Linked DNA regions of Homo sapiens: region 1 is linked to region 2. Evidence: fine-mapped expression QTL. A gene starts in region 2. The other region holds a variant in brackets. All regions are shown on one strand. Distances are from middle to middle.

Evidence for each region.
Region 1: its variant is fine-mapped to the expression of LINC01612 in lung (TOPMed, PIP above 0.99).

Annotation. Positions count from the first base shown.
Region 1 is chr4:170,138,239-170,141,167 of GRCh38, reverse strand. No RefSeq gene overlaps it. Among named protein-coding and RNA genes, the nearest start is that of AADAT, 50 kb to the right of the region's middle. RefSeq lists silencers at 2,316-2,465, 2,236-2,530. The variant C/T (reference allele first, on the strand shown) is at 1,684.
Region 2 is chr4:170,225,530-170,228,458 of GRCh38, reverse strand. It overlaps LINC01612 (long intergenic non-protein coding RNA 1612), which reads right to left and starts at 1,868. Exons shown (of 3, transcript NR_125889.1): 1 at 1,676-1,868.

The DNA.
Region 1 (2,929 bases), 87 kb after region 2:
TTTAACTGACTTTATTTGAGCAGAGGAAAGCAAAGCAAAGTAAAAACAGAATGAAAATGATTCACAAATCAGGCAGTCCTCTGAACCAGGGCAGGTTCAGAGAACTCCAACTAATAACATGATCTGACAGCATTTATAGGAAACAGAAGTACGGTGTACAGAAAACTGAATTGGATACAGCTTCATTGGTTAACTGGCTACGGAGCGTCCTGCAGTAACTAAAGCTCAGCTCCTGGAGTTCAACTTTATGTTGGTTTGGTCTGTCAGGCCTAGTGCAGGAACCTAGTTTATTTTGGTTAACAATACTAAAGTTATATATATATATATATATATATTATATATATAGTGCTTAATGTTTATCTCTATCACACTTCTTTTAGAGTTTGGTTCATCTTTCTATCATGTTAGGACCGCTTTCATCTGATTCTGTCATTTAGGGTTTTTTTTCATGAACCCTCTTAACTCTGTGTCATCCACATGTTTGGTGAGTGTGTCCTTCATATCTTTATCCAAATCCCTGATGAACGTATTGAACAGAATACGGGCCACAACAAGGCTCTGATATTTACCAGCAGAAAACATATCAGATTAGCAATGTGTGGTTCAATGTTCAGCCAGAAACTCATCAAGCTAATAGTATTACGATCCAACCCATAATTCTTCCTCTGTGTGATATCATATAACATCAACAAAAGACTTTACAGATGATATTGGACTTTTTCAAGAAATTAAGAAAGTAATCTTTTTGTTTCACACATAAACCAATGAACTCAGAAGTCAGAAATGTATTAAAACAGAGTTGAGCCCTACCTTAAGAGTAAAGGGACTTACAAAACCTTATTTGCATTTACTGTCTCAAGTAGGGAAATACTTACCCCAATGTATTCCCCTCCTGACCTGACACTTTATCATGGACCCATAGTATCCATTCTGCCCCATAAACAGGAATCAGACATAAGGAATCAAGTCTTATTCATCTCTATTTAGTCTACAATGCCTAGCATAGAATTTCATACACGATACTGTGGAGTTTACTTCATGACTTTCTTAGGTTAGGATGGTCCTAGCAAAACAGAAACTTCTGCCACACTGCTCATCCCATTAGAAGTCCAGTGGTCACTCGAGTTTACTATTTCATATGGTATTGCAGAAAGGAAACCTAGACATAGGTTTGCCAAAATATGTGTCATGCTCAAGGCATGGCGCAGAACACAGATTCCCCCATAACCAGATGATGAGGTAATTGGCTGATAATATCTCTGGGTGTAGGCAGGGATGTTGCTACTACTAGGCAGTCAATATCTTAGTCATTGATACTAGCTGTTATTGACTTTGAATGAAGCACGATCCTCCATTTAATAAAAATAATGACTATTTAATGAGGACAGCTGGCCCAGCTAGGTCATCCCTGAGCCACAGGTTTGGACACAAAGAATACACCCATTCCAGGTCATCAACCACGCTCAGACCTCTCAGGGGCATGAATACAGGCTCTCCCTAGCCAAGTCCATCCTTTTGCTGACTTCGTCCCCTCTTTAGTAGTCTCTTCCTGCTCTGCCCAAACTCTCATTATCCCTTCCATGCAAAAGACCTCATTCTCATTCTGCTTCTTTTCTCACAATAGAACTCAATGTGGCCTCCTTCCCCTGACAAACATTAGAAGCAACACAGAATGTATTTATC[C/T]TTTTCTAAGAGAGAGATCTTATATTTTTAGAAAAATTATCCTATCTATACACTCCAGTGGATAAACGATATCCTTTATATGTGTTAGGGAATTTTCATATTCCCTAAATATTCTTCTGAATACATCAGGAACAAATACTTGAGTGTTTACATCAAAACATAAGATGATTCTATGCTGCACACAAAACTAAATAATGTTTGTTCAGTGAATCAATGACTTTATATAATACTTTATATAAGATGTCATACTTTGTATAAGATCGTTACACAAGGTACTTTAGATATTAAAAGATACTGAAAGATATTTTATAGACATTATACATTTATATTTTATGTAAGATATTTATATCATCCTTTATATAAGATATTTTGGATCTGGTGCACTAAGAGGCCTATGGATGGGAGTGTAGATATGGTATACTGCCGAACACTTCTCAGAAAAGAAGAGCAAAAATGTTGAGACCTAGAAAGCAGTGAAATGGAATTAAGGAGTTCTGTTCTTCAATAAGCCAGAAATTTGAGGCAGGTGAATGAGGTTCAGGCAGAGAGCATAGGTTAGCAGGAGATTGGCACAAACATCCGAAAACAATGTATAAGTGTGGGGCAAAGATTCGGAAGAACTGTAAATCAAGTGTTGGGTCTAAGCCTAAAATACCGTCTCTGAATCCTACGGCTGAAAACAAGTGCGCGAGCGACACCTAGTGTTCAAGTCCATAAATGATGCTGCGTCAAGGCTTCCTTTCCTTTCCTGGAGCCCACGCTGCAAGGACCGCCCGCTCCTCGGTTAGGTACAACTCTCATCTGCGTACACAGCAGATACAAACCGCTATATTAGAAATTAAGGCCTTCAGAGAAGTCTTTAACCCATTCCATTTCATAGACCACCCACTCTTTTTAGATATTTCATAGCCCACCCACTCTTTTTAGATATTTCATAGCCCACCCACTCTTTTTAGATATGGGGAAACTGAATTCCCTGTATAGTTTTAGGAAAATGAATTGCCATTTCATAACGAGATATGTTTTCACCTCCTTAAGCTAGTTTCCACTCCCTCTAGAGCAAAACAAAGTATCAGCGAAGTTAAAAACATGGGATGTTCCAGGAGCAAAAGGCCTGGTGCAAGCAGATTGCTTTCTGGACAACTAATAACAATATCTAATCGTTATTGAGTCCCTTGTATGTACTAAATTTTGGACCAAAGAAACGGCAAATATCACCTCAAATGCTGACAGCAGTCCTGCCATT
Region 2 (2,929 bases):
CTGTTTCTATAATTCCATTCATCAAGCAACTTATTTTAGACATTAAATCTTCAGGGTAAGTGTTTCCACCAAAATTGCATACAAATGTGATGAAAGTGCATTTTCCCATATTTTTCATCAGATTCTCAGAAGGCTCGACAAACTTAAAGGTTGATAAACTATAGTGTGGAGGGTTAAGAAAGCTGAAAAACTTCTGACCCTCCTTCCATGCAGAGGTGGAATCTATTTCTCTCTCTTGAATCTAAACTGGTGGACTACGCTTTGACAATAGAGAGCATCAGAGATTATTCCACTCCAGTTCCAGACTCAGCCTGTAGGAGAACTAGTGTCTCTTTCTTGATCTTCCAGAGCCCTGAGCTACTTATCCTGAAACCATTGTATGTGAGAAGCCCAGGCCACATTGGAGAGGCCCTGGAAATGCTGTATGGAAAGAAAGAGAGGCCAGGGAGCACCATGGCACCAGATATGGGGGTGGAGAAGCCATCTTGAGTGTATCCCACAGCTTCTACTGCTGCCAACCTGAGCAAAGATGAATCACCCAGCCTGGCCCTTCCAGAATTCCTGACCCACAAAATCATGAATGAAATAAAATTGTTGCATGAAATCATAAAATTCAGATGTTAGCTATTTTAGATCAAGAGATATCACAACACACTGGGATTTTTTATTAAAAATTCTTAAGCATTTTACATACAACTCAAAAATTTTAGACATGCTATTATAAACTAACACATAATTCTAAGCCAAAACTATTCATAATGTGTTCCTCCTTTCTGTCCATCATGTTGTTTACTAATGAAGCACTTAACAGTTTTGGGGGAGGGGTAAGAAAAGTTACCAAAAGAAAAATATAAACAAGCAAACAAAAAACAGAACTCATCATTTTCAAACACCTTTTCTTCAATGCAAATGATATTTAGTTTTTACTGTTCTTAAACTTTACATCATGCCTAATTTCTTTCCAGTCCTCTAACTTCTCTATATGGTCTGCTCACTGTTTTTTGTTGTTCTTGCCTTTTAATACCTAATGACACTAATTAGTTCACAGCTGTCATAAAATGCTTTTGTTCTCAAAGAACTCACAGATAAGGTTTCTTTCTTGAATAATCTGTAGACGCTTTACTGTTTATAAAACAGTTCTCATTTTATTTTTGCTAAAGATTGGTCTAAGTAATTTATATACACAAGAGAATTGAAAAATCATGATTTTTTTACTTGTTCAAGTTTAGATCCTATTACTTTTCTGAGTTCATATGACATTTTCCTTTCTCATAATTTTGAGACAAAAGAAAATGTTAGCTATATAAGGTTCAACCTGATTAAAGTGAAGATATTCTCTAAAATGTTCTATCTTCCCACTTACCTGGAATAAAGACTTGGGAAGTCTCAAAACTTAGGGGTCAATCTTAAGTAACTGCAATTTTAAACTCCAATCAGTTAAAAAATTAAATGATCTTGTTCCATGTAATAATCAAAAGCCCATATTTATTTTTACATTAATTTAACATTTATTTAGTTAGAGTCTGCTGGAAGCAAAAACCTTTGACATCTTCTGGCATCTTCTTTCTTTCCTACCAATTTTTTCCTTAGCCTACTCATCTTAGCTTCTACATCCTGTAATTATTTTAGGAAGAGGGTGGTAGAGGGGAAAAACTTAGAGAAGTCAAGTTCTTACCTCACCCGTATTGTTCAATTTGCTTTACGCTTTCTTGAATTTGAGAGGTTTCTCCAGCTCACTCTTTCCCTGTGTTAGAAACAAATGCTGGGTGCTGCAAAGAAAACCAGAACTTAGGCAGAAAATTTCTCAGCAACGCACATCTACTTCTGCAAAAGGGTGCTGCCTGTGTCAGTCACAATCACAAGAGCACACCTAGCCAGGTAGGGCAGGGGTTTTTATCCCTAACACAGTTCCTGTTCTGAGTCCTTTCCCCATTGGCTGGAGTCAGACCACACAGTCTAAGCTGACCCGATTGGCTAGTATTTGAAATTGAGTAAGGCCAATTAGGGGAGAAGGCAGAGGCTGTCCCTTACCAACTAGGTGGGAAGGCTTGTTTACAGAGTAAGAGGTTTGCTAGTTACAGATTAAGCAGAGAAACAAGTGCTCATTACAGACTAAGCAGGAAGGGCTGTGCACAGAGCAAGAAAAACCAAGGAAGCTTAGAAGAGGAACTTACTATTTCTGGCACCTGGTACATGTAGGGGTTCTTAAGAAATTCCTTCATTTCTGCAGACCCCTTAATAAGGATCATTCACTCTCTTCTGGTTTGTGTGTCTGCAGGGCCCTAAAATCCAAGATTTCACCTCTAGCTCCTTCCACTGGGCTCCCATTTCCCCTCCAGGACTCTCATTAAGTTAAGATCTAGGATAACTCGACCCTGCACCTCTCAGCATAAGATAGATAAGAGTAGAGATAGAGATTTTGTTTAAAACCCCATATTGCCACCTCCTCTCCCTATAGCTGAATTTCTTCTTTTACTTGACCACGATGATTTGGATACATAATTAGATAATAATACAGCATAATTCTGTTCCAAAATCTATAGACTTGTGCTCATATAACCCAACTACCTTTTTCTTTCTCACTGGTGTTCACCTTTCCCAAAATGTTTTCTCTGCAATAATAGTTACTGTTATAAAATGTTGCCTGATAATATTTTCTAATCTGTATTAAGCAGTGTTGTGAGTCCCCAGAGTTAATATCAACTCAAAGTTATTCTTTATTTATTTACATTTTTTTTCATAGAGGCAGGGTCTCACTACATTGTCCATACTCCTGGGTTCAAGCAATCCTCTTGCCTCAGCCTCTCAAAGTGCTAGGATGACGGGCATGAGCCACTGTACCCAGCCACAAAACTATTCTTTAAAGGTGGTTATAAGTGGTCCTTCAATCATAATCATAGTATTTTTAAACTTTTAACTTTAGTGTATA